Regions from separate parts of the Homo sapiens genome. Here region 2 is linked to region 1. Evidence: fine-mapped expression QTL. Tissue or cell type: subcutaneous fat. Region 1 holds a variant in brackets; the other region holds the start of a gene. All regions are shown on one strand. Distances are between the middles of the regions.

The links. PIP is the estimated chance that this variant, and not a neighbour inherited with it, causes the effect.
Region 2: COG4 starts here. The variant in region 1 is fine-mapped to the expression of COG4 in subcutaneous fat (GTEx, PIP 0.99).

What each region holds. Positions count from the first base shown.
Region 1 is chr16:69,951,407-69,954,162 of GRCh38, reverse strand. CLEC18A (C-type lectin domain family 18 member A) reads right to left here. Exons shown (of 12, transcript NM_001370523.4): 1 at 2,673-2,756; 2 at 2,037-2,128. Among named protein-coding and RNA genes, the nearest start is that of CLEC18A, 1.5 kb to the right of the region's middle. RefSeq lists an enhancer at 1,056-1,669. The variant T/C (reference allele first, on the strand shown) is at 1,308.
Region 2 is chr16:70,522,023-70,524,639 of GRCh38, reverse strand. COG4 (component of oligomeric golgi complex 4) reads left to right here and starts at 1,086. Exons shown (of 19, transcript NM_015386.3): 1 at 1,086-1,267. The coding sequence starts at 1,097. It overlaps SF3B3 (splicing factor 3b subunit 3), which reads right to left and starts at 824. Exons shown (of 26, transcript NM_012426.5): 1 at 712-824. RefSeq lists enhancers at 1-280, 1,314-1,453.

The DNA of each region.
Region 1 (2,756 bases):
CTCCAGGAGGAGCCCAGCTCCTCTCACGACTGAGCCTCCATCTCCAAATCCTGTCGTGGGCATCCTTCGGCCCTGCCCAGGCAATGGGACCCGCTCCTGCTGTCTTTCTCCCATCTGGTCATGTGAGCAGTGCCCACGCGTTGCAGACTGGTTCTGTGTTTGGGCCCTGGCCATTGTCAGAAAGGCTCCACTGCTCCCACCCGGCCATGCTGCCCTCCTGTGATGCAAAAAGCCCTACAGCCACGCCTCTCTGCCCTAGTCTCCTGCCCCCAGGAGCCCGGCCTCATATGCTCCCCACCACGCACAGCTGACCCCGCCCCCTCCCTCTTCTTTTTTTTTTTTTTTTTTTTGAGACAGTCTCACCCTGTCGCCCAGGCTGGAGTGCAGTGGAGAAATCCCGGCTTACTGCAACCTCCGCCTCCCAGGTTCAAGCAATTCTCCTGCCTCAGCCTCCCAAGCAGCTGGGATTACAGCCATGTGACACCACGCCTGGCTAATTTTTGTATTTTTAGTAGAGACGGGGTTTCACTGTTGGCCATTGCTGGTCTCAAACTGCTGACCTTAGGTGATCTGCTTGTGTCAGCCTCCCAGAGTGCTGGGATTACAGGTGTGAGCCACCGTGCCCAGCCCCCTCCCTCTTCTTAAACAAGTGGGCCTGGCAATCACCACCCCTGGGTGACTTGGTGCAGTCCCCTGATCTCCCGAGACTCCCTGAGCTCATCTGTAAACGGAGCAGGGAGGTGCCTGCAGGATAGGACTCACAAGCACTGAGTGGATGCAGGGAGGGGGGCCCCTCGGGGCTGCACCCCAAGCCAACTTCATCCTGCACTAATGTCCATCGGGGTTTTACCTCTGATGAAGGCTGGGGCCAGGAGCTGGGGGCTCCCCGGGGTCCCTCAGCAGCCCTCCACCCCCACAAGACCTTCAGTCTCCACTGTGTCCAAAGAGGGGGTGCCCTGGAGCCCTAGAGGCCCGGAGGGTGCTCGGGGCCGGGCCACGAGGGAGGCTGAGCCATGGAGCTCCATTTGCACCTTTACGGAAATGAAGTTTTCTAGGACTTTGACAAAAGGGCCCTGGAAAGGGTGCCAGCTGCCAGCCAACGACCACCGCAGCCCCTCCTGGGGTCCCAGGCAGGAGTACCCAACCACGGAGGTCACAGCTGGGAGCACCCCTGGTTGCCCAGGGTCTGAGCCTGAGGAGAGGCAGAGCCACTCAGGGCTGGGAATCGGGGAGAAGCGACCCCCCGCATTTAGCCACCCCACCCCCACCTCCTGGGAAACTGACCCTAGAGTGCTCAAGGTCGCCAC[T/C]GTGGCCGCCTGCCTTGGAGGAGTTCATGGGAAGCAGCCATGGGGAACCCTCCCGCCCCCACCACCCTGCCCTGGCTCCCTGGCCTGCTAACATGGGCTGGGGCTGCTGGGGTCCCAGACAAGGGGGGGCAGCGTTTCTGAGCCTCCAGATGACAGTCCCAACCCCGCAGCCCCAGCCGGGCTGGTGGGGAATTCTATACCCCCGACCCCCGGCCCCTGCTGAAAATGTGGAAAATGTGGACGAGTGAGTGAGCAGAGAACATGGGCAAGGCCCGTCCTCGTGGCTCAGATAAGCTCAGGAGGAGGCGCTGGGTCCTTGCCGCACAGAAGCCCCTCCCCAGCCCAGCACGACCTTCTCCCTCCCTGGCCCGGCCGCCCATCCTGCAGGGCTCCTCGTGAAGCTCCCCTTCCCTGGAGGAGGGGATCCGGCTCCTCCTGTGGCTCCTGGTCTCTGTGACAACAAGATGCCAGGGAAGGCCCAAGGTCCTGCCCTTCAGGCGAGTGGGAGCCAAGGGGCCCGACCTCCTGAACTGAGGGTGGGGGGTTAAGAAATTGCAGAGACCCCCAGCAACCAGGGCCTCCGTCCCTCAGGGACAAGGTGGCTGGCTGTGCCTGCCCACCCTGGTCAAGTGGAAGGGCACCTGGACAGGCGTGGCCTCCTGAGCCGCCCTCTGGGGTCCGCGCCTCCGGCCACCCCCCTGGCAGAGCCCAGCTGGGTCGGGTACTCACCAGCCTCCGCATGTCAGCCGCAGGGGGCTGGACCCAGCTGCGCAGGCGGTTGTGCAGGGAGAGGAGCAAGAAACTCTCCTTCCTGTTCAGGGCTGGGGTGGGGAGAGAAGGTCAGGCAGCCCGAGGATGGGGGGACCTGAACCCAACACACGGCAGAATAAGCATGTGTCCCTGCCCTTGGAAAACAAGATGGGAGAGGAGTGTGGTGGGTGCAGGGGACGTGGGGCATAGCAATGGAGCGAGGCTGAGAGAGAGACCAGGTACAGCAGGCGTGGGCTGAGTGCTGGGGTTGGGGTGGCGGGAGGGAACAGCGGTGCGGGCTGGGTGTAGGGGCCAGCCCTGGCTCCCGCAGGCCCCTGTCTGGGGCTCCTCCGGGCCACGGATTTCTCCAGGCCCCAGCCACAGCGCCCCTCGGCGTTCCTCCTTGACCCCAGCCCTGGTCCTCCTTCCTCCTCCTTCCTCCCCAGTCCAGCATCCACCCCTCACCGCCCCCGGGCTGTCCCAGGGCTTCCTCATTAAACCACCCGCACGGCCTGGGGCTCAGGCCTGGGACCGGGCTTCCAGAAGTCTCCTAGCACCCACTCCTCAGAGCTCGTAATGGTGCCTCCACCTACCTCCTCACCAGGTGTCCCTTACCTCCGGCCATCGGAGCCTGCTCCTGCAGCTGGGGTGGCCACACCTCTGCCCAGGCGGTGCCAAGGAGGGCCAGGAGCACAGCCA
Region 2 (2,617 bases), 570 kb before region 1:
CGGGAGGCTGAGGTAAGAGAATCGCTGGAACCCGGGAGGCAGAGATGGCAGTGAGCCGAGATCGCGCCACTGCTCTCCAGTCTGGGCGACAGACTGTGACTCCGTCACAAAAACAAAACAAAACAAAACAAAAAAAACTTCCCCCACGTCTGTTTACCATTATTACAAAAAGCTTGTATGATTGCTCACTGCATCTTCTCCATCCTCCAAGGAAACATCATCGCATTTAAACTCTGTCCTCCATTACGCAAACGAGAAAATAGAGGTTCAGAGGAGGAGACAAGTTGCCCAACTACCAAAATACAAATTCAAACCGGAGTCTTGGCTCTAAAGACTGTTTCCGTTATTTACGCTTTTAACACGCTCCATCTTTCTATCTTCCCCTCGGTGTACCATTTACTCTACCCAGAGGGAGACATCCATGCCTCCCGCTGCTTGTCACACCTCCCCCGTCTCAGAGTCCCCAGAAGTTAAAAGCAATCTCCACGAGCCCTATTTTGAGATAGAATATGTTCCCACACTGTGGATGGAAGCGAGAGATAACTGCAGGAAGCCGTTTTGGCGCCTCAACCATCCCTCGGTACCTCCTCCTGGTCCCCAGCCTCTCGGGCCTAGACTGCCCGTGACCCCCGCCAAAGTCTCGGGTCCCCCTTCCATATGGCCGGTCTCCGCCTCCCCGGGCCCGGGGAAGTCTCCAGGCTGTTTTTTTACCCTGCAGCGAGAAGGATGGTGTGGATATCCAACGGATGCTACCTCCCTTCAAAACTTAAGCCACCACCAACTCCAACATACTGGCGTCCGCCATTAGACCTCAAGACAGGGACATTCTGGTGGCGCGCGGCGGAAAAAGGCACCCAATCCGCGCCTGAAGAATATATATAATTTTTAAAAAATGCTTCCGTCTTGCTTCCACACGGCATTACAAATTATTTAAACATGCTTTATTGCTTTGCTTTTTCCAGGAGAATAGAAAATTAATACGTTTTTAGAAGTAGACTTTAAAAAAAAAAAACCATTAGAGTTCATTGGGCACTTCTGTGGGCAGCCCCAAATAGGCGCCAACGAAGAGGGGGCCTCGCGGGACCGGAAGTGCCGAATGGGGACCAAGATGGCGGACCTTGATTCGCCTCCGAAGCTGTCAGGGGTGCAGCAGCCGTCTGAGGGGGTGGGAGGTGGCCGCTGCTCCGAAATCTCCGCTGAGCTCATTCGCTCCCTGACAGAGCTGCAGGAGCTGGAGGCTGTATACGAACGGCTCTGCGGCGAGGAGGTGCGGGGTCGAGCCTCTTCTTTTTCATGGAGGATCTAGGGAGAGTGGGAGCCTTCAGTCGGGAAATCCGGGCTGTGGGAAACTCTCCTTGCTGGGGGATACAAAAAAGCGGGAAAACAAAGAAGCGGAAGCTAGTCGGGTATATGAGTAGTCCTGTCAACTCTTTTCACGCTGTCGGACGCGCCGAGCTTGTCTTCCCTGATACCTGGGCGATCTGCAGCCTCTCCTCCCTAGACCCCCGTTGATTTCCCTGATCCATGATCACCAGTTTCTCCACGGGAGTAAAGTTAGTCTGAGAGTATTTGCCAAATTGCTTGGTTCTCAAAATAATAAGCGCCCTTTTGCATTGGCTTAATTTACAAATTATGAAACGCTCTCATCCTGTTATTTAAGAGGGAAGCCTTTGCAGATTAACTTCTTGAAGCGTTTTAAGACTTCCTCTTGTGGGGAGTGATTTGGGGGTGTGATTTTAGCGTTTTGGTCAAATGCACATCTTTGTAGAGGTTTAGCTTTTAAGACTCAGACACAATTCTCTAATCTTGGACAAGTCACTTCATCTCTGGTACCCTTGATATTTTATCAAATGAGGGGTGTGGACTATTCTCCAATTCCTTTCAGTTCATAACGTTCTATTTCCTGCCTCCTTTAATTTTCAGTGGCAACTCGATGCTGTCAATTCACTTTCGAATGTCAGTTGGGTTCCTTGCTAGTCAAAAGAGATCTAAGCTCTAAGCTTGTCAGCTGTTTCCCAGACCAAACTTCTAGCAAAGTTGAGCACAAAAGGCAGTTTCAGCCTGAGGGAGAGGTGATCGTTGATATCTTTGAGTATTTTCAAGTATAAACTTGCACTAACTCTAGCAGTTTCTGATACGTTTTTCAGCAAGATGTGTGTGGTGTTTTTTGTTTTGTTTTGTTATTTTTAGAAACAGGGCCGCTCTCTGTTGCGCAGGCTGGAGTGCTGTTGTGCTGCAATCAGAATGGATGAAACCAGAGGCGCACACCACCGTGCCTGGCTAGTTTAGTGTGTGGGGCTTTTTTTGTCTGGCCTCAGCAAGATGTGTTTTAAAATTTAGTATCTTGCGGGGCGCGGTGGCTCACGCCTGCCATCCCAGCACTTTGGGAGGCCAAGACGGGAGGATCACCTGAGTCAGGAGTTCGAGACCAGCATGACCAAAATGGTGAAAACCATCACTACTAAAAATACAAAACTAGCCGGGTGTGGTGACGCATGCCTGTAATCCCAGCTACTCGGGAGGCTGAGGCAGGAGAATTGCTTGAACCTGGGAGGCGGAGGTTGCAGTGAACCAAGATAGCGCCATTACACTCTAGCCTGGGCAACAAGAGCAAAAT